Linked DNA regions of Homo sapiens: all the other regions are linked to region 2. The links come from fine-mapping of genetic effects on gene expression. A gene starts in region 2. Each other region holds a variant in brackets. All regions are shown on one strand. Distances are between the middles of the regions.

What was found. PIP is the estimated chance that this variant, and not a neighbour inherited with it, causes the effect.
Region 1: its variant is the best candidate, but not a certain one, in a credible set for the expression of SLC22A23 in blood mononuclear cells (TOPMed, PIP 0.66).
Region 3: its variant is the best candidate, but not a certain one, in a credible set for the expression of SLC22A23 in monocytes after LPS (Fairfax 2014, PIP 0.85).
Region 4: its variant is the best candidate, but not a certain one, in a credible set for the expression of SLC22A23 in lung (TOPMed, PIP 0.54).

Annotation. Positions count from the first base shown.
Region 1 is chr6:3,346,398-3,352,296 of GRCh38, reverse strand. The region is part of intron 3 of SLC22A23 (solute carrier family 22 member 23); the gene reads left to right. Among named protein-coding and RNA genes, the nearest start is that of PSMG4, 90 kb to the right of the region's middle. RefSeq lists an enhancer at 274-3,134. The variant G/A (reference allele first, on the strand shown) is at 2,795.
Region 2 is chr6:3,454,553-3,460,451 of GRCh38, reverse strand. SLC22A23 (solute carrier family 22 member 23) reads left to right here and starts at 3,402. Exons shown (of 10, transcript NM_015482.2): 1 at 3,402-4,546. The coding sequence starts at 3,893. It overlaps LOC643327 (a long non-coding RNA gene), which reads right to left and starts at 4,749. Exons shown (of 2, transcript NR_147844.1): 1 at 4,201-4,749. RefSeq lists silencers at 3,125-3,344, 3,405-3,634.
Region 3 is chr6:3,340,043-3,344,816 of GRCh38, reverse strand. The region is part of intron 3 of SLC22A23 (solute carrier family 22 member 23); the gene reads left to right. Among named protein-coding and RNA genes, the nearest start is that of PSMG4, 83 kb to the right of the region's middle. RefSeq lists an enhancer at 2,906-3,629. The variant T/C (reference allele first, on the strand shown) is at 2,093.
Region 4 is chr6:3,358,904-3,364,802 of GRCh38, reverse strand. All of the region lies in intron 3 of SLC22A23 (solute carrier family 22 member 23), which reads left to right. Among named protein-coding and RNA genes, the nearest start is that of SLC22A23, 95 kb to the left of the region's middle. RefSeq lists enhancers at 1-38, 39-539. The variant G/A (reference allele first, on the strand shown) is at 2,974.

The DNA of each region.
Region 1 (5,899 bases), 110 kb after region 2:
ATGGCTGTGTGTGTGTGTGTGTGTGCATGTCTGTGTGTGTATGTTTGTGAGTGTCTGTGTGTCTGTACATGTCCGTGTACGTGGTTTTCACTGTCAGAGCAGCAGGACAAGAGGCACTCTCACATCTCCTTCCACAACCTGCCCTGTTCCTCCCTTCCTTATCTGTGGTCCTGGTGGGCCTGGTTTTGCCATGGCCTCTGCCACCTCTCAGCACTCCAGCAGCCCTGCCTGGGGAGGGGAGGCCATGGAGTGCTTTCGCCTTGACGCCCATTTCAGAAACGGAGCAGCCTTACCAGTCGGGTGGTGGACAGTCATCCACCCAGAGCATCCCTCCCTGCTCTCCTGTTTGGTGTGGCCTAGATGGGAACTCCATCTGCCTCGAGGTGGTCCCCATGACTGCAGCAGCTCAGGCCTTGGCCCTGCTGCCCATCCTCCTGCTCACCTGGGGGTCATGTACATTTGATGAGAATGCATTAGAAACCTGGGTTTCCTGGCTCAGTCCTGAATGAAGTAGCAAGTCTCCTCGGGGACAGTTTTGATACCAAATAGCAGAAATATGGCTCCATAGGGCCCACCCTGTGGTACAGTGTGGCTGGGGGAGGAGATGGGTTACAGAATCTTTGAAGTGGCCAGTGACGTGTTCTTAGGCGAAAGCCAGGAAAGGTCGAGGGGAGAGAGGTTTCCAGAGCAGTGGGAGGGGTGGGCGGGAAGCCACAGAGAGGGCTGTTGACTGAGCCTGGATGACTGCTCATTAGTCCTGACCGTCCAGTACTTGTGGGCTGAACGTTCCCCGCTGCCTGGCACGCTCAGGGCAACCCCCAGGATTTGTGTTCATTGCCCAGCTCAGCCACCCCCACCCCATAAAATCTCAAGACTTGTCTTTCTGCCAGCACTAGCTGATAACATCAGATTATTTTTCCCCAACCCTTTTCCTTCGCCCCTTCGTTTTCCACCCTAAGAGGCTAAATTGCCTGGCATTTTCCACCGCACTCCGATTACACTGGACAAAGGGCCATCCGGCTAGAATGCTAATAGGGAGATTTTTTTTCCATCCTGCCTGAGCCTCACAAAAGCTGGGGGCTTTAACTGCGAGGGCCTCTCTAGCTCTCACTTTCTTTCCTGTAATTCTATACAAACGGCATTAGCCTTTTATGAGGTCTTTGTTTGTGGCCATTCTGAGGGTACTTTTCATCTCACATGGGTTTCTTGAATTTTAAGTGGAATTTGTTCAAATCGGCCTGGCCTTGCTTCTCCTGGAGGAAATGCAGGCTCACCATTATAAGTTAGTAAATTCAAAAGGGATTTTTTTTTTTAAGAAAAAAATCTTTCTCTTTCACCACAAATTAAATGCGTCAATAAGAGAAGATGATTAAAAATTCAAGTGCCCTTTGAAGATACAAGATGATTGACCTCAGAATGGGAGTGAGAAGGGCAGTGAGACCAGCTCCCCATTACCACCAAGAAATTCCATTTGTTTTCTCTCTCTGATGTGAAAATAACTCCGTCTCCCTTGAGGAATCTGCTCTCATAATAAAAATCACCATTTGCATTTTTTAAGTAATAATGCTGATTTTTCTGTTAGAAACTGAAGGATAACTAAAACATGCTGGCTCTGACAACCAGTTTGACGAATGGATCAGTTAATCCAGCCTGCAGCTGTCAAAGCTTCAGAGCAGGCATGGGCCAAGTTTTCTGCAAAGGGCCAGAACATGAATATTCTGGGCTGTGCAGGCCATACGGTCTCTGCCCCACCTACTACTCCCTGCTACTGCAACAGCAGCCATGGACAATCTGGAGGTGAATGAGTGTGACCGCATTCCACAAAAGCCGCATTTGTCGACACTAAAATTTCAATTTCACATAAACTTCACACAAGAGATATTATTCATCTTTTGGTTGTCTTGAACCATTTAAAAATGTCCATTCTTAGGGACGAGCTGAATAAAATCAGGCAGTGCATTGTACAAAAACAGCAGCCTTCAGCAGGATTTGGCCCGAGGGTCATAGTTTTCCAACCCTACTTTAGAGCAGCTTTTAAAACTGTAGTTTATGACACATTAGGGCTTGGGTTAAGGGTTATAGAATCCATCGGGTGGGTCCTGCCCAGCATTTTTAAAGAAAAAAATAGAATTAAGTGCATCACACACAATAAGGGTTAAGTATCGTTTCATGAAAATTTGGGGTGTGTGTGTGCATGCATGCTGAGTCACTATGCTGTGCAGTACTGGGAAATAATTTTCTATCAACCATGGTCCTACTCATCCACCAGACTTTTATGTGCTTCAAAGGACACAAAGACCAAGAACCAAGGGACTGTGAATGTACTTAGCCCCCAAGAGGGGATGAAGGCGACCGTGATCATCTGCCTTCGTGTATCACAGGAATCAAGAGCCCTGGAAGAGGTGCTCTGTCCCAGGTCTGTGATCAGAGAGCGATGGGAGCAATAAGCCACCACCTTATCTTTCCTGAAGATATCAGGTTGCTTGAGGCACTGCCCACTTCATATGAATTTCCTGCTTTCATGTTAGGCTTATTTCTGAGTAGTTCAAATAATTCATCTTCTCCACTCTGCTCTTCCACCTCCTGAGATTCAGTGATATTTAAAGCACTTGGGTGGTTGAGTATTCAATATTCTTCACCAAACAGAAATACAATAGTGTGTGGGAAGAAGGGCCATGCATTTTAATCTGATGAAAACAGCTCATGCCAGCTGTGACGGTTAGCCTAACTGCAAACTAGGCTGTGAGGAGGTGGAGGAGGAAGGAAGGTATATTTTGGTACTATAATAATTCAG[G/A]GCCTGCAGGGGATGCCCTATGGTTGAACCACATTCTAGAGAGGGTTCCAGAAACTCCAGGGGCCACAGGGCTTGCCTCGGGGTTGGCATTGGGATTTGGTGGTAGGAGTCAATTTGGCCGAAGAGTCCTCGGGTAGGTGGGATAGGGAGAGAGAGGCTGCCTCTTAGGTCCCCAGGAAGTGGGGAGGAAGAAAGACAGGTAGGAGACAGAAAGGTGTTTGGGGCTCTGACTGCCCAGTCCGAAGCCCCAGCTCAGTGCTGAGCTGCTTGGTGGCTAGGGCAGGCTTCCTCGAGGGTTCTGCAGGCTTTGGCAGGGAGGAACGAAGAGCAGGGAGAAGTGCCCCGCGGCCAGTTGGCCCCAGTGGGAAGCACCCCATCACCCAGCTGTTTGCAGAAAAGGCAGCTGTCCTTGAGGGCAGAAGCAGAGGAGCATCCCCCTTCCTTGTCATCCTGCTCAGGGGAGGCTTTGTGGCTTTCTGGTTTACCCAGAGGGAGACACTGTTTACTCTTCTGAAGGGGTTATGAAAGATGACTATTTCCAGAGTGGTGATGAACGCTGGAGAGACAGTTGGAAGGGAAGACAGTACCAGTTGACTCTCCTCTGAGGCAAAGCCTCTAAATTCCTAAGCCCTCCCTGCCCTGGCTCTGGGTCATGGGGACCCGGTCCGTTGGCTGGGAAGGGTTTGTCTCCTTGTGACCCAGGATGCTTGCTGTAAGATTTGGTGACTTTCTGCAGCTGGAAGGTTTGAAGCTCTGTTTTCCTTGGACAGTTTGCTAGTTGGATCTTGGGTTGAATGAGCAGCCGCTAGGGGTGAAGTATCTGGCCTCAGGTGTTGGGTGGGTCAGGTCCTAGGAGTTGGGAAGGGCACCACACCCAGCTCCGTGCCGGGAATGTGGTGGATGCTCGTGTGATTGCCAGGCTAGTAAGTGCCGAATGGTGGGCTGCATTTTTCCATCAACAGGGCCGGATTCTATAGTGTGCACTCACTTAGGTGCAGATGGGACTCAGTAAGAAGACAGTGGCCTTGCTAAATAAAGAAACTGAGAGCAAGATAAACACAATGCAGACTGCTATTGTCACTCTGAGCAGATGGCCACAAGTCACCCAAAGCTCAGGTAAGAAGAGAAAACAGAAGCTTGTAGAAAAATACAGCTCCTGCTCCAGGAAAGATGGCGCCTAGGCTTTGGTTCAGAGGCCAGACCCCTCCGTTGTAGTAGCTGTTCCAGGCCATGGTCAGAAACCAATTCCCTTCCTCACTTCCCCACATCCCCACATCCTTCCGTCCCCAAGCATGGAATCGTGGAACGTGCAGGCACCAAGGATTAGAGGGTTGGGACTGAAGAAAACAAAAAGAATGTCTCTTTCCTCCTGGAGCCTTCCAGAGCAGGAGACACACAGCATGCAGGTAACTAGATAAGTGTGTCCCCCACAGCTGGGACAGGTGCCATGAAGGAGAAGCCTGCAGTGAGATAAGAGAGCCAGTGAGGCCTGAGTTAGATGAAGGAGTGGAGAGCAAAAGCCTCCATGATGACACATCACCACGCAGAGACAGGAGGGCGTCCAGGCTGGGGCAACAGCCGCACACCTCCCGATGCTGGGCAGAGCTTCATCTTTAGCAGTAGAAGGAAGGGCTCTTGGCCACAGCCTGAGGGCAGGGCAGACTGTGTAGGACCTCCTATGCCAAGCCAAAGACTCAGGAATCTTGTGCATAAAGTGAGTCTCCAGTGGAGATTAGAGGAATAATGAGAAAATATCAGACTTTTAAAAAATTCAATATGAAGTCATAAAAAAATCAGATTTTTATGCTAAAAAGTATAGATCAGAAAATGTAAAGTAGGAGGAGAAAGAGAAGACCATTGAGAAGAACCAGGAGGTAGCCAACACGAGCGATGAATGAGAGAGGGAGGCTGGGAGAGAAGCAGCTTAGGAGACCCAAGAGATCAAGCAGATACCTGAGGCATTTGGCAGTTCATTGCATGGCTGGGCCCTGCCTCCTGTTACCCAGGGGAAGGAATGACTAAGTGCTCCTGGTGTAGTTAAATTCTCCTGTGCAGTTCAGCTCTCAGAGGTCAGCCGTGATGATGCTCCAATGTTGGGGGTTGGTTGCTCAGGTCAGCCGCCAACACTCACCAGAGTCTTCTCTGTGTCAGCTCTTCACCATCCTGAGGGGTGCGAGGAAGTGTGAGAGAAGGACATGGCCCACAAGAACGCTAGGGTCCAGTTGGGGGGACAGATGCATGTGCGTGTAAGACAACGCAACCGTACAAAATAGGAAGCTGCTGAATGTCCCGCAGTGATGCGAGGGGTTAAGTCCATGAGTGGCGTGGCTGCACGGTCAAACTTCGGGCACTCACAGGACATCACAGCGTGGGGGTAGTTAATGACTTGGGGAAATGTGTGCAACATAATGTAAAATAACAAAAGCAAACTGATAACCATTTAAAAAAAAACGTTGTGAAAGATTGGGAGGAAATATACTAAAATATGAACACTGGGTGTTTGGGTTATTGGTGATTCCCTTAATACATATGTCTGTATTTTCAGGGAATTCCCATAGTATCTTTGTTTAATGTGAAAAGTTAAAATGTATGTATGTTGTCCTTTAGATGCTACTAGGGGGTATATGCTCTGTGTTATATGTGTGCCCTGACCCAAGACAGCTTTGCCAGGTCCTAGGTTAGAATTCATCCTGGGTGTCAGCAAGGGCAGACTATTTCTAGTAGGACTGAGCTGAGCAAAGGCATGACAGGGAACCAAGTGGAAGGTGGGTCTGAGGGATGGCCAGGGAATGGGCACAGCTCCCATGGACTCCCAAGAGGCTGTGGGATGGTGCAGCTGGGAGTAGCTGGAGGTGTTTCATGCCTGCCCAGGATCTGGATGTGATGACACAGGAATGCAATGCCAACACAAGGGTTTAAAGAGCCACTTGCCTGCTTGGGAATGCCCTTGTAAGCTGTGTGGCAGCAGATACGGAGGGGACCCTACCCAAGCTGGAACAGAGTAGCGGCAATGGGGTGCACAGTCACTAAGAGGATTTGCAGGGAGGAAGCTGGCTGGACTGGGACTTCATCCATGCAGGGGAGGAAGGGGTTGCTGCCCCCAGT
Region 2 (5,899 bases):
TCAGCTTCTTTATTAAGATCACTGGGTTCAGGATACTCACATAAATTTAGGGTCACAAACACAGCTACTTTTGGGGGCCAAATGTCATGCATGAGGGGCATGTGTCAGGCAGGGATGAGGGCAAGCTGGAGAGTGCCTGCTCATTTACTGCAGTCCAAGAAAGCACGGTCCTGCAAACATGGGGCATCAAAAGGACAATGGCTTCTGCTATGATGTTCAGAGAAGCCCAAAACACATTTTTTTCTAAGTATTCAATCTCCCAATTTTGAAATGTTAGCAATTATTTTCCTGAAAACATTGCCTATGGTCTGTGAGCTGCATTTGGCCTATAAGCCACCATCTGCAAGCCAATACTGCCCAAGAGAAGATAATATTGGGAGCTAATCCAGTAACCACAATGCCTTACAACAAGACATATAATTGTCAAATTCATTTCAAGTCTCATGTTGGCTGATCTGAGCACCATCTTTGAGAGATGAACAAACACAAAAAGGTTGCTTGATGATTTAAGAAACAAAGTAAACAGTTTGATGATTTGAATAGACAGTATCATCAAGTGATTAATAACTTGATACACTCATTTATTTGACAAAGATGTATTGAGTGCCTTGCATGTACCAGGCACTGTTTTAACCACCAAGCATACAGCTGAGCACAAGGCACCTATCCCCGAAGGTGCTTACATTCTAGAGGCAGAACGTAAATCTAACTAAGCAAACAAGAAAAATAGCAGCTGATGATAATGCTCATTCAGAAAATTAAAAACAGTAATTTTTTAACAGGTGTCTGGCTTTCCTATCCTGGTCCATGGATCTCAAACCTCACCCACTGAGGCTGTCAGAGTGTCAAATTCTTCCTCTTTACTCCTTTTGCTCACGTTATGAGATCACTTGTGGTATGTTTTAATAAATTGAAGGCCACTTTATTTTAAAGTAGTTACACTTTAATCTTCTTGACTAGATTTGGTGGAAATATCAATCCAGGAGGAATTTAGGGAAACCTCTAATCTAATCAACAGCTTAATTACAATGCCTGGGTCAGTGCTGCAGCTAGTTAATTTCAAACATTTTATGTTGCCTCCTTTTAGCTTCAGTTTTAGAGGATACCATTTTCCAGTGTGTCCCTAAATTCTAAGAATGTACCATTTGAGGATTTTTACCACCTTTTGCGAACAAAGACTAATAACATCTTCACAATGAAACTCTTTTCCTAGGGCCAGGGCTTCTCCCACGTAAAAATGCACATTAACAAACATCTTTGTAAACTCTTCCCTATAGTTGCCCCTGTATGATGAAATGGAGAAATCCGGTAATGTCCAGTCAGAAAATCTGGGTTCAAAACCAGATATTTGGCTCAGCTGGGGACCAACTCTTTGATCTGGTAGTCAGTCACCTGATCCTTGCTGTTTCTCTTTGAAAGCCCACTTCTTGGGGCGCTGAATGTGAGGACTGAGTGAGAGTGTGAATTTGAAAGCCAACTCTGAAACGCTGGCTATGATAGTTATTCTGATTGGAAGGGCCATTAAGGTCAATGGCAATGCTCCTTTTGTGATCAGTTACAAGAAAACAAATGGGTCCTTGTGACTGTGGGGGAAGGGAGGCAGAGCCAGACACAAAGTGGACCTCTTCTGGAAAATCAGCCACTGAAAGGAAAATAAATAAAATCCGTAAAGTTATATTTCAATTCAAAAAGAAATGTGGATTGTATGTAATGGCAAGAGGAGCACTGGTAATAATACATGTCTAACATTCATTGCGCACTTACTCTGTTCCAGGCATGGAGGTCAGAACTTTGCATGTATTAGCTCTTCAAATGAGGGGAGGAGAGGGAAGGAAAAGAAAAGTTAAGCTAATAAATAATGTGAAGTTGAAAAATTACCACGTACACAACGTGCACTATCGTGTCCCCCCCCGCCCCAAGCCCCCAGCTCTTTATATATGTGGTTTCCAGACCCATTTCTCAGCGGTCTGGTGTCTTTTGCAGCCCTTAGGGCCCCTTCCGCCCATTGTTATCTAATCACCCCTTCTCGGCCACGCAGGAAGGTCCACAACCTCCCCTGTCCCCCAAGACCCGCCCCCCGGCAGCCTTCAGAAATAGTTCTCTGGTACGTATGTGCCAGCATTTTATGCAGTAAACACATGTTGCCCTTAACACTGAACTGCAGGTTAAAAATGTATTCCACTAAATTGTGCAGCGGTTAGCTGAGCAAATAATGAAAATGCAAAAGAATACATTCAGTATATGGAGCTTAGAATATATCCTTTTGGAAAGCTAAACATTTTTTTTTTTTTTGCCCCAAATAAGACTAGAAATGGATTGCTCCATTTAAGACTTCCATTAATAAACTTCTCAGAATATGAAATGCCTCCAAAATGTGGGGACGCTGGGTTGAAAGGTGCCGGATAATTCTCTTTGGTGCGTGCGCTGGGTGCAGGAGGAAATATGCTAATGTAGCCGTTTGCCGCAGGGCTGGTGTTATTTATACAGCGCTGGCTGGGCAAGGTTGGCGCTGGAGCAGGAGAGGAGGGAGAGGTTTGTCTTCTTGTGTGAGAGTATAGATGTGTGCGCCTGTGCACACGGCGTTCCAAACGTGAATACAAGATCTTAGGGAGGGGGTGGGGAATGCCATCACGTTTATACTGTGTGTATTATAACTTGTGTTGGAGATATATCCCAGCATCGTGCTTACATCGCATGCACTTAGGAGTGGGGGAAGAAATGGCGATTTGGGAGTGGGTGCGGCGGGTCGCAGGTGGCCAGACACTGCGGGGGACTGGCGACCTGAAATTGGCAAAGGCGCCTCCTTGACCCTGCTCCACGGACACAAAAATCAACCTTATTCGCTCCTGGAAAAAGCGCAGAGGGTTGTTCCCGAAGGCTGAAGACCCTCGGGCTTGGGACTGGGAGCGGGGCGCGGGCAGCGGGACCGCCGGGCACCTCTGAAGAGACAGAGGTCACGGAGACCTGGCGCGCGCGGAGTGGGTGGGGGGCCCGCGCGGCTGCGGGAGCCCAGCCTCAGAGAAGACCCGGCCCACACGTTCTCAGCGCACGCCGACTTTGCCGGGACCCGTCGCCGGCCGGCGACCCCTGCTACGCGCGTCTCCTCCTCCCCCGCCCCGCCCGGCGCGAAACGGGCAACGGGCAGGGGATCCTCCAGCCAGGCGGGCCCGGGGTGTCCCGTTTCCCCCGCCCCCCTCCCGTGGATCCCGGGCGGCGGCGGCCGCGCGTCCGGGCTGGAGGGGGCGCTCGCGAGCAGGAGCCGAGCGCAGCAGGTGCCGCGGTTACCTCCACCTCGGCGGGGGGAGAGGGGGCGGGCCGGGGGGCAGGGAGGAGGGGGAGGAGGAGGAGGAGGAGGAGGAGTGGGGCCGGCTCCAGGAGCTGGAGAGCGCGGCCGGCTCGGCAGGCTGGGTCCAGAGCTCGCGGCTTCCGGGAGGCGCCCGAAGTCGGAGAAATACAGCGCGGCCACCCCGGGAGCAGCAGCCTTTGCCCGCACCGCCGCCCGCAGGGCCCTGAACCGCCGGCAAGGGCGCGGGCCGGGCGCGGCGCCGGCTCCTCCTCCTGCCGCGTCCGGCGCGGAGCAGCGGAGAGCGGCGGGCTCGGCAGCCGGCGCCCGGGCCGCGGAACTGATGAGCCGCGGCGGCTGAGGGCCCGGCCGGCCTCTGCCCGCCTCTGCCCGGCGCCCGAGCGGGGCCGCAGCGCCCGGGGCGCGGGGTCCGGCGGGTGACATGGGGGCGGCCTGACGCACCCGGAGCCGCCGAGCGCTCTCTCTCGAGCCGCGGGCCCTCCTCGGCGGCAGCGGCTGCAGGCGCCTGGCCCGGCGCGCTGTGCCCGGGGCGCCCGCGGAGCCTCCGCCGCGCTCTATGCGCCTCTGCGGGAGCCGCGGGCCCGGGCCATGGCCATAGACCGGCGGCGCGAGGCGGCGGGCGGCGGGCCTGGGCGGCAGCCGGCCCCGGCCGAGGAGAACGGCTCCCTGCCGCCCGGGGACGCGGCGGCCTCGGCGCCCCTCGGGGGACGCGCGGGCCCCGGCGGCGGCGCGGAGATCCAGCCGCTGCCCCCACTGCATCCTGGAGGCGGCCCGCACCCGAGCTGCTGCTCCGCGGCTGCGGCCCCGAGCCTCTTGTTGCTGGACTATGACGGGTCGGTGCTGCCCTTCCTCGGGGGCCTGGGCGGGGGCTATCAGAAGACCCTCGTGCTGCTCACCTGGATCCCGGCGCTGTTCATCGGCTTCAGCCAGTTCTCGGACTCGTTCCTCCTGGACCAGCCCAACTTCTGGTGCCGCGGGGCCGGCAAAGGCACCGAGCTGGCAGGGGTCACCACCACAGGCCGGGGCGGGGACATGGGCAACTGGACCAGCCTCCCCACCACCCCCTTCGCCACTGCCCCCTGGGAGGCTGCGGGCAACCGGAGCAACAGCAGCGGCGCGGACGGAGGCGACACACCACCCCTGCCATCCCCTCCGGACAAGGGGGACAACGCCTCCAACTGTGACTGCCGCGCATGGGACTACGGCATCCGCGCCGGCCTCGTCCAGAACGTGGTCAGCAAGGTAAGGGCCGCAGCCGCCCAGTCCCTCCAACCCTCTCCCTGCAGACCGAGGTCCAAGCCCGAGCCAGCGGGAGAACCGAAGTCCCCAAAGTGGTGGTGCTAGAGTGTGTGTAGGGCATTCCGCATTGGCTTAATCTCCTTCCGTCCCCCAAACCACATGCCTTTACTTGGGTGTAAAGGGAGCACCATAGCCTTTACTAGTTTGCACCCAAACTCCTGTCCCAGTACGCGGATGGAAAGCGCGCCCTTCCCCCACCCTCGGGGCGAGGCAGCTGACCTGTCACCAGCCCCCTCTGGAGGAGTCGGACTGGCGTCGTTCAAGGTCTGCTGGGGGAGTCGGGACCACAGCCCTGTTCTGCCCGGCTAGTTGTCCCTGGGTCTCCCACAAAGCAATAGTCTTCCATCTCGCACTTGATTTTGACACAGGTAAAGCCTACTAAAGAACTGGAGAGCCAGAGAAGCAAAGACTCCTGCAAATCCCCAACCCGCAGCCGATGCTTAGTCCTCCCCAAAGATATCTGACTTTAGGCTTTGCTACCCCAGTGTCTCCTCCCATGTTTTCTCAGCACTTCAGTAAACATCACTACAGTATAGGAAGGACGCGGAGAATATGTCATTTGGGTGTTCCCCGGCCGTCACCGCTCTTACACAGCAGCTGCTTTGGGCTGAGGCACTGAGAACGGGGGTGTGCTTTAGCTGAAACATGCACCTTGTCCTCTGAGTCCTGTAGCTAAAGCTCCCTTGCAGAGGTATTGCGTGGTGTGAAATGTAGCAGAAGGGAGTTGTGAGACAAGTGTGAAGGCCTAAACACAGAGTGGGCAATGGTGGACACTCAATGCCCCTAGACAGCTGTAATTTTATTCTTAACATATAAGAGATATCAAGACATTTGTAGTTTTGCTCCTTGTGTCTAAACTAATTAATTCACATTTTAAAGTAAATACAGACTCTCCTCCACCCCACCCGCTACCCATTCTGGGCTGTTCTGGCAGAGTTTTAAATGCTTTGTCGAAATGTATGAAATTGGACAGTTTTAAATAGTCAATGTGCATGTAACCTCCTCCCCCCGTGTGCATTGGTTAACAGTTGTAGCTCATGGATGTGTAAGATAAACTCTTACATCATCATAATCATTGTTTTAATCTTGTACCAACCTGGCCAGAAATGCTCTGTCCTGTGGGAACTGTCTGACTGAGCTGCCCCTGCTGCCCTGCAAGGTAATGGGGAAGGTCCTTCTAGCTGGGTTCACCTTGATCCCACCCACCTCCTACCCCCTGCTTTCTAAAGGTGTTTCTGTGACTGTTTTCCCTTCACGGAGGGCAATATTTCTTTGTTGGTTTAGCAGCAAAGAAAA
Region 3 (4,774 bases), 120 kb after region 2:
CAGCAGGTGGATAGTTTGCAAGAAGCTTGCTTCTGAAATTATAAGGACCAAAATGTGATACTGAAGGAGTTCGTGATTGCCTAACGCTTACTTATTTCAATATGCTTAAAGTTTGGAATTGGTTCTTTCAAGACACGCTGTTCACTTCTACCTCCAGAAAAAGGATCTTTATACATCACTCTATGTGTACAAATTAGTTTCATTTTAACCTTCAATGAAATCCCAAACATTATAGAATGGCTTTTAGTTTCCCAGAAAATTTAGAACCCAGGCTGTTTGGCCCCAGAGCCCAGGTTCTTAACCACATGGTCGTGTCAGACACTACCGCTTGTGTCCTTTGAACTTTTCAATACAGCCCTTTAGACTCATCAAAGGGATCCAGTAGAGCTTCTGCTAGAAAAGGGGAAGGAAAGAGGGGAGGAGAATATGGCACATGTAGAGATTTGGCCAAGCTGTTTTGGGTATTCTCTATTATTTCTTATGCTTTTTCCATATATGTGAAATACTACTTTTTTAAAAAATTTGTTTGGTTTTCCCCTCCTTCTTACTTACATGTCATTGAGAATGCTAGGAAGGTGTTTTCATTTTGACATGTTAACATCAGATTCTAGATCAGTGCTGTCCAATAGAACACTTGAAGTGTGGCCAGTGCAACTGAAGAACTGAAGGTTTACTTGTACCTAATTTTAATTAATTTAAGTTTAAATAGCCATATGTGACCACTGTATTGGACAATGCAGTTCTGGAAGAAAAAGCCACAGAAACCAAGGCATTCCCCAGTGCTGTCAGAGACTGGACAGTAGATTCTAATTCGTGTACCATTCCCCTTAGCAAAAATCCTCTTAAAATATTTTCTAACTTAGGAATAAGCGAATCGAATCTAAAATTTACTTGAGAAAATATTCTCAATATTTATAGAATGTAAGTTCCTTCTTCTGCCATCCTGTGCCTTCTGTCTTCTTTCCCAAATGAAACATTTTTTCATTGCTTCTTGTGTGTATGTATTTAAGGGCTGCTCTCTGTTCGGCACCAATGTTTGACAGTGATTGGCTCTTCTCTTAAATACAGCCAGCTCCCCAAGGTCATCAGTCAACGTCATTATGTTCAGAAGCAGATAGATGGGCAATTCAAGAGCGACCTAGGGTCTTTCGACATTTGGCCGGCTGCTGAGTATTTAATTACGTCTCGACAAACATGGGAGAGAGCCCTCATTGATAAGCTTAGCTTGTTAAGAGCTGGTCTCATTAATGGTCATGGTGATAAATTGTGCTAGTCTTATTGAAAAAAAGATGTCTAAAACGAGGACATTATGTCTAAATGATGAGGATGTGTGTGTGTGTGTGCGTGTGTGTGTGTATTTGCAGGGGCTGGAGATGTTTCCTTCGTTCTTAAAGGATAAATCTGGTGTTTAAAATCCAAAGATCTGAATTCAAGTCCTAGATACTATAAACCATATGACCTAAGGCCTATTTGGTAACTAACCTCTTGGGGCCTCCCTGTTAAATGGGATTAGCACTTGTTTACGAGGCAAGAGTGTGGTTGGGAATAGATGTGGAAATGCAGTGTCTCTGTTTGCTGCTGAAGTGGTCCAGAATATGCCACTGGCCATAAGGACTGTTGTGAGCTGACAGCATTTGAGAACCAGCAGATGCAGGACGCAGCTTTGTCGGAACTCCCCCATCTACCTAGAAACAGAGCTTTCCCGAAGAATTCAACTGTCATAAATCCCCCTTTAAGGGAGATTTCTCCCAGCAGAGGTGAAGATGAGAAGTTGATGCAGGATGAGAAATTGCATAAACACACCTTACTAAAACAAACCTTCTCTTATATTATTTCCCCCGTGTATTTCTCTGTCATTTCCCACTATTTCTTGTCTCTTGAAATCCTAACCCCTTCCCTGCATTAGGATGGTATATAAAGCCCCAAATTCCAACCTCTTCTCTGAGCCATTTTTTGCACTCTCCTGCCGGTATACATATGTGATTAAACTTTGTCTTTCCTCTTGCCAGCCTGTCTTTTGTCAGTTTAATTCACAGGCCCCAAGCACTGACCCTAGGAGGGTGGAGGAAAAGGTTTTCATCCCCAGCACTAA[T/C]GTGAAGGTGTTATTTGTACGATGGCAGTTTCAGGCAGATGAGAAATCCCAGCAATTTTGCTGACATTTGACGGCAAAAGCTCCTCAAGGTTTGAATCTCCTGGACCCCCCATCTACTGGCTTCCTGGGCTCCATCTGGAAAGCATCTGTTTCTGGGAATCTGGGCTCAGGGCCCCGGGGGACTCTGATGCTGTGGGTCAAGGAGGCCCCACCTTTGAGAAGCACTGTTTTCAGGGACCTCTGCAGACTGGGAGAGAGAAAGAGGTGTGTGTGTTTCAAAGGAGGTGAGCCGTGAACCCTAGTGGCCTCACTTCCATAGTTTCTGGGGCTGTACTTCATTCTGAATTTCAAATTTTAGTATTCGGTTGCCTAAATGAAGTAAGGTATTCCTTTAAATTTTGTTTTATCTCAATTTGTTGGCCACCCAATGACTTTTTGAAAAAGAGTTATGTTAAGGAGACACATGGCCTTAAAACAGCAAACCACATTGGGCTGGATTTCAAATTGAGGCTTCCATCTTGAAACAAAACGGTAACTGAGAATAAGTTTTCATTTTCACGCAGACACACCTAAAATTTAAACCCATAGTATGTACCTAGAGGAACAAAATGCTAGTTTAGGAGCTGCTGAACCTAAACTAGCAGCTTTCATTAAGAAGAAATCTTAATTAAAGCTTCATTAATCTTTCATTAAGAAGAAAGATTTTCTTCTTAATGCTACTGAACAGATGTCTTCCTCTATCCATGAATCGAAATATAGATAATCACTTGGGCCCTAGGATTTGTTTAGGAAATGAAAGAAGTACAAGAAGACTTAAGTTGTATGATTTTTTTTAAAATCCATTAACTTTTCTTTTAAAGGATTTACAGGTGTGGAAAGGATGGCCCCAGTCTGAAATTTTATTCCCAGCTTGTGTTCAGTTTCCTGCGCTCCCCCGCCCCCACCCCCCTCGCTTGACAGGGAAGCTTCGGTCACAACAGATGACCAATGAATTGTGCGTGTGGTTTCTTCTCTTTTGCTTCTTTTCTTTTCTGCCAACTCTGTCAAAGGCAGCCCAGCGTGAATCAGAAGTGCTGGCTGAACACTTACCCCAGAAGTCTGAGATGGTTTGGTAATCACAGCATTTACATTTGAATGTCATCTAACACCAGAGCAGTGATTAACCAGTGACTACAGAGTCACATCCTAAGTAGAGTAATACTGTGATTTTTTTCTGGGTTTTCATGTTCTGGACCCAAGGAGTTGGAAGAAGAGAGAGAGAGAGAACAAAACCCATCCACCTCAGAGTTTTCTAGTGAGGTCTGACATCTGCCATTCTAAAAAGTTTCAGGTGTGTCCTCTAAACCTCACCTTGAAACAGCCTCTTGCACTGTATAAAAGTTAGGCTTTTGGAACAAAATCTTTTGAAACAACTACAACAAAAAGTATGCTTCAATGGCATAACTTTTTTTTAGCATTTCAATCCTTCATATTTAACATTTTTCCTCTCAGCTTGATCGGAGGGAGGGCTTTCTGAGAAACCCTCTTTCCAATGAATCTCAAAACAGCTTCTGAGGTCATCTGTGACTCGGGCCAGCCTCTCAGCAACCTCTGTGTGAGGATTGTTTCTCTATATTAAATGCTGTATGTTCCGAATGTGTGTCCTTCAGAGCCAGGAGCTCACAGGAGCCATGTGACCCCTGACTTCACAGCAGGCCACCTTCAACCCTGTGAAGGGAGGGGAAGGTGCCATAGCAGGCATTGGTGATGGGAATGCCAAAGGTTATGTGTAACATGAGAGACCGGCCCCTCCTCATTCAACCTGATCCTGAAAGAAGGAGCATAAGCTTGAAGACATGAGTCCTTTAAATATCATTCCTGTAAACTCATATTGCCCTGGTTTCTGTTTTCCCAAATGGTAAATGTATCCTTTCCAGACAGATCCCATCAAAACCCACAAGTACCTAAGGACAGTCTCTCGGTTCTCATGTCTCTAGCACGTCATGCGGCTGCCCTTTTCCCAGTAGCCCCATCTGTTTTCCATAAGGGCCGCACTCTGTCACTTTATAAATTTGCTACGGCAATTGTCTCCTGCTTTTTCACATGGGACCTTGAAAATCGTTTTTGGCCTTTACACAAAGGATCGGTTACAAAGCTCCTCATACTGTGGTTAGAAATCGAGTCACTTTCCAAGTTGCCGTTCTTATGCAAGATGTTCCCAACTTTTGCAAGAATTATCAACTTTTACAAAAGTTCATTTATCTCATGGTTACCTGGAACTAAAGGGGCAATTTGTCATAGACTCTGCTGCGGTTACGTATGGGTCCCCAGGCCAGCCCACAGGGCTGTTTAAATGTGTCCCTGAATTATTATACTAACGTGCTGTTTGAAGGCCCTAGAGAGAATGTGACCGGCGGGCGTTTTACCTTATATCATCACTTTCTTTGACTCTGACAAACATTTCTTCCAGATAGTACCTCTTGCCATTCATAAGAGAGTCATAAGCATGTTAAGCCTCTTGCTCAATGTCATTCGTATAGCTGGTACTTGGAAAATGGAAATGCCAACCAATTTCAAAGCCCCTGCCCTTACCATTCCCTTCTCCAGGCCATCCCTCCTGGATAATACCGCTTTTGTGGGAGCGCTCTCTGGGCTAGGAAGCACCTCCCCTGTGGGGAGAGGAGAGGAGGGAAGCTGTATTCT
Region 4 (5,899 bases), 96 kb after region 2:
AGATTCCAAGTCTTAACCTGCACGTCCCGGATGGTGGACAACAGTAGCTCATCTCCTGCCACTCTCCATGCTGCGCTTCTCCTGTCAGGTGCCTCCTGCTCCTGTGTGGCTGCCTCAGCTGGGAGCGAACTGCTCCCTCCAGCTGTGCCCTGCACGCGTGAGACCTCTCGCTGACCCTGGAAACACAGCAATAGGATCACTTCCCAATGCCCTCCCTCACCTCTGTGTTGAATTTAGATGCCTCCTGTGTGACCTCATCACATGGTGTGAGCAGGGCATCTGGGCCAGGTGTGACCTCATCACATGGTGTGACCTCACTTTTTTTTAAAGAAGGGAATGAATTTTTTTTTAAGGAGGGAACAAATATAAAAAATCTTTGTCCTAGAGTCAGAAAACCAAGGTTCAGGTCCTACAGTTGAGACCTTCTTAGCTCTGTAACTTTGAGTAATTTACTGTAGAGAGCTGATGTTGGTTCCTTGAAGTGTAACATGGGAATTGTGCCTATTACATCTTACCTAGTTGCCGTGAAAATCGAATGCACTCACCTGCATGGAGAGGTTTTAGAAGCCATGAAACCCCGTACAAGTGTTTGGTGGCACCATAAGGACAGTTAGTGTTCATTTCCAAGCAATACAATATTGCATATTTGTGTGCAGATAATGAGCTTTCTATTACCTTTGACTCATCCCAAAGAGGTTCGTGAAAGTGCCCCAGGAGAGAGGGAAGGCAAAAGCTCTATTGGGTGAGATGCACAAATGTCAGACCATGCCAGAGCCTTCTGTTGTGTGGGCCCATGGGCCAGGTCAGATAAAGTCAGTACCGTTTGGGGCCCACCCAACTACACCCGAATGTCCTTCATGCCTTTGCCATGCCCAGAGGAAACTCATGCCTGTGAGGGTCAGCCAGTCCCTGGCTCTGCCCCATGTCCTGTCTCCTTTTGGAATGTAGAGCTAGTGCCCAAGAGAGGACCAGGATGGGGGCAGGGGCACTGGAGTAACCATGTAGTAGATGGCTGAGCAGAGGCCAAGGAGGCAGCTCCCACCACCACCCCAGAAAAATACCCCTTTTTCTCTCCAGAACGTGGCAGCGGTTGAAGCCAGGAAGGACCAGGCTGGAACGCTGTGCTTTTCCCTTTTTGGGGTGGCATTGTCCTCTGGAGAATTGCAAGCAGGCACCTTAGTGCTGAAGGTGCCACATCCTAGTTTGGGCGTGACTGCCAGGTGCCCACACTGGGCCCAGGGCCAGCCGCAGGCAGCAGCCTGTCACATCAAGGTGAGCAGCAGGCCATGGGCGGGGACAAAACCATGACTCATATTCCTGCTCATTCTTTTCCATCCCCTCCCCTTCTCCCTCACAGCCTCTCCTCAGCCTGTGTCCTGGGGTGTCACAGTCCCCCGAGGAGGAAGCCTGGGCCCTGTCTTAGGTCCTGTTCTGGCGGTGGCCTGGCCCCTGGGACAGAGCCCTACAGACAATTGCTGACCATTCAATCCTGCTGTGACACATGTGCTGTGCTGCCGGAGCTCACCCATTGCTGCTGCGCCTGGTGAGGATGGGCCAGCCAGGGCTGCAGGAAAAGAAAACTGACTTTGGTAGAGGGGAGACCCAACTGCTTTTGTATTTTGTGTTAATTTAAAATGGCAAAGATATAAGTCACAAAAAACATGCCCCTGCCTGAGTGTGCTATGCCTCATGTCCCAGCTGAGCGGAGAGCCCATTTCTGATGCTCATCAGAAGTTGCAGGCAGTGGGCTGCGGGATGTCCCACCGAGTGCTGAGCAGGTCAAGTGGGAATGCAGATCAAAACTCTCTTCCTTGGGCTCTGAGCAGTCCAGAGTTTAAAGGTTGTTAATTGGCCAAGCCTATTTAATATTTCATTCACGCGCACATGGAAACAAAGAGGTGGTCATGGCAAAAGCTGGCACAGGACATTCCCCTGTCCCACCACCCCATTCCCCTTGCCCTCAAAATCTTTATTCGATGGTCCTTAATGTCTGCATTTCATTCATGCTTCCTCTCCTGGGTCCTGGAGGTCTACCTGCTTCTGGGACCTGCAGCCTTTCTCCATGGAGAGAGCTGGGCTCTGGTTCTCCCATCCTCACTCTGTGTAGTGGAGAGACGGAGAGGCCAGATTTGTAGATGGCATCTTGGGGGTTCTGCCTGGCCCCAGAGTTCCATTCCTTTGTTACCTTGCTAAGGAGATGGGATGGGGGGCTTTGCTGTGCTCATTAATCTCAATCCCATGGAGCCCAGGGCCATGAAGAGATCTCAGAAAGGTCATGGCCTTTGCCTGGTTAACAACTGTTTGGTTCAGGAAACAGTATCCTTGGTGGGTGTTTCAATCCCTGATGAAAATGCATGCTAATTTTTATTTTTTATTTTTTATTTTATTTTTTTTTTTTGTGAGACGGAATCTCGCTCTGTCGCCCAGCCTGGAGTGCAGTGGTGTGATCTCGGCTCACTGCAACTTCTGCCTCCCGGATTCAAGCGATTCTCCAGCCTCAGCTCCCGAGTAGCTGGGACTACAGGCGCATGCTACCACGCCCAGCTAATTTTTTGTATTTTAGTAGAGACGGGGTTTCACCATGTTGCCCAGGCTGGTCTCGAACTCCTGAGCTCAGGCAATCCACCCACCTCGGCCTCTCAAAGTCCTAGGATTACAGGCGTGAGCCACCACACCTGGCCGCTAATTTTTTTAAAGTTTGCTTAAAAAAAAAATTTATTTTTCCCTAGAGGACCTCACAGAGCCTTTAATTTGCTGACAAGCACATGAATCTGAAGGGAAGGTGTATAGAATGATCTGATAGGTTTCCTCCATGTTTCTACAGTCCTTGTGTGCACTCTGGCATGACCATCAGCATGTGGCAGTGTGGTGTTGGATTTGGAGTATTTTCCATGCCTGATTGTAAATCCCTCGGGGTAGGGACCATGTCTTCATCTCCCTAGGTCGTAGCGTGAGAACCGGCACGTGTTTCCC[G/A]CTTGACAGGTGTCCCAGCCGTGGAGGCCTTTGCGATCTGTTGAGATGGCCTCATGTTTCTTCTTGCCCCCACAATGTGATTCAGCAAAAAGACAACTGGGTAACAGACGCATGGAGCAGTATTTCTTGGATCCCATGGGGCTTGCTGTGTTGAGACTGGGCTTTCGAGTCTGAATTCAACTGAGAGTGAGGTGTTGCTGATGCAGAGAGACTCATGGGCCCAGCCCCTTGTCCTCTGTAAAGCTGGGAACAGAAGCTAAGTCTGGAGAGTCGAACCCCAGAGTTTTAGAGATAGAACTGATAGGCAGGTCGCCGTTCTCCTGGGACCCCAGTCTTTGTGGCCTTTCCCAGCAGCTGAACTTTGGACCCCTCTCTCTGTGACATCCTGCTCCTAACCTGGCCACATGATGCTGCTTGAGAATCCAGCCACAGCCTGAGCCAGGACAGCTCTCAAGAGAGGAGGACAGGCTGTGGGATGAACGGTCATGGCCACAGATGGAAGGGACCCAATTCCTTAAAAAAAAAAAAAAAAAGAATGATGTAGGAGTCTTTAAGCTTCTCTAAAGGGCAGGGCTTGGGGGTCCCTGTGTCCCTCTTATTGAAGCACGTTTCCCTCTCTTTTTTTTCAGTAGAAAGACAGTTGAGGGGGTGTGTTCTGTGTGACACTGCTGCAGGCTCCTTTGGGGGAGAAACCCTGATCTAAGTCACAGCTGGTTGGGGTCTTAAGTCCTTAAGCAGTTTAACTTGGGGTCAGGCATAAAATGGGGGGGGTGGGTAGAAATAGAAAATATACAAACAACAGGAATATAAAATGTGGGACACCTTCTGTGGCCTGGACATCCCTGCTGCCTCGAGCTCCCCGCAGCTGCTGATGTTCGCTAGCGCCTCTCGTCACCCCAGTACCACGCTCTGACCTTCTGTTCCTGCTGCACCTGTTCCCCACCCCAGCATCTTTGCCCGAGGGAAGGCTTCGTCCAATCCCGTTCCCGCCCTGGATGACCACGCCAGCTGTGGGCCTGCCTGGCCGAACGCAGGTCTCCATCAGAGGGGCCCGTCTGCATGGGGGTGCCTGCACACCTGTCGTGTCGACATCACTGAGGACCCCTTGGGGGCTCAGGCCAGCTTGAGGGCCTCTTTGTCTCCTAAATAACTGGGACAGTATCTGGGGCTTAGATGAGCAGTCAGCATAGCAATAAGTGACCGGAAATACAGAGATGTGTGGACTAAGACTGTTGAGGTTGACTCGGATGTGTGCAAAGGCCCCAAAGTGACCTCCCTCCACGGTTGAGCCGTTGCCTGAAACCCGACTATGAGAATGCAGTTCTGTATTTTAAGGCAGATGAGACAAATGCCCCCAAGAATGGCAATGCAGTGAGCTCTGTGACTCACCTCACCTCCTGGTGATTGAGCCTTTCTGATCCTCCTGAGTTTAAGGATCCTTGGGTGGATGGGTGGGCGGGGCACAGCTGAGGTCAGAGCTCTCAAAGGCCAATACTACGGACTTGCCTTTTTTGTTGTTGTTTTATTTGGAGGGGGGTGTTTGTTTTATCATGGTAAAATAAACATAGCATAAAAATTACCATTTTAACTACTTTTAATTGTACCATTCAGTGGCATTAAGTAATTCACATTTTTACACAGCCATCACCACCCTTCATCTCTAGAGGTCTTTTCATCTTCCCAAACAAACTCTGTCCCCAATAAACACTCCCCATTCCCATCCCTTAGTCCCGAGCAGCCACCCTTCTACTTTCTGTTTCTATGAATTTGCCTACCTAAGAACCTATTTAAGTGGATCATGCAATATTTGTCCTTTTGTGACTGGCTTACTTCACTTAGCATAATGTCTTCAGGATTCCCTCAGAACAAGGACCTCTAAGGACAAAAATAAGTGAAAATAAGAAAAAAAGAAAAAATGCTTCCTTTATACTATAGCATATGTTGGATATGGCCTCCCTTTTTAAGGCTGAGTTATATTTCATCCTCTGGATGGATCACATTTTCTTATCCATTCATCTGTTGATGGACACCTGCGTTGCTCCCACCTTTTGGCTGTTGTGAATATGCTGCCGTGAACATAGGTGTGCAAATATCATTTCAGGTCCTTGCTTTCACTTTTGGGGGGTTATACCCAAAAGTGGCATTGCTGAGTCAGATGGTAATCCTCTGTTTAATTCTATGAAGAACAGGGATATTGTTTTCTCCAGTTGGCTGCACCGTTGTACATTCCCACCAGGAATGTACTGGTGCACCAGGGTTCCAGTTTCCCCACATTCTTGTCAGCACTTGTTATTTCCTGTTTGTTTGACAGCAGCTACCATCCTGATGGATGTGAAGGGCTACCACATTGTCGCTGTGATGTACATTTCCCCGATGACAGTGACGTTGAGCATCTTTCCATGTGCTTCTTGGCCATCTGTATGTCCTCTTCAGTTTTTGTTTTGTTTTAAACTTGCACTCAGATGGATAGTTATATGTGTGACCTAAGGAGAACCACTCAGTGATGAAGAATAAACGTGGCAACACCAGCTAGCATAGCTTAGCAGCATCTGTTATCTGCCTGAGGGCGGTGAATTCCCAGTGAGATGCTCATTCTAGTACTGTCCTAGAATGAAATGAGTCTCAGCTGGCATGTTCCTCGCTCTCCTTCTCGGTGCCCATCTTTTTCTTAGTTGAAATGATCTGTGATTCTGGATGCAGCCCGTGTTGTTCTGGGACGTCTCTGTATTGCACTAAATTAATAAAGGAGCTTTCATTTTTGCAGTTATGTATTTTGAATTCCCTATTCTCTCTTCATCCTGAATGACTGAGACTTGATTAGACATCGGCACAGCGCACCTGACATGGCGCTGACATGGAAATGCAATGGGTGGCAGCTCGGGGTGCAGACCCCACCCAGGATGCTGTGCCCGAGGGGAGCCAGGGC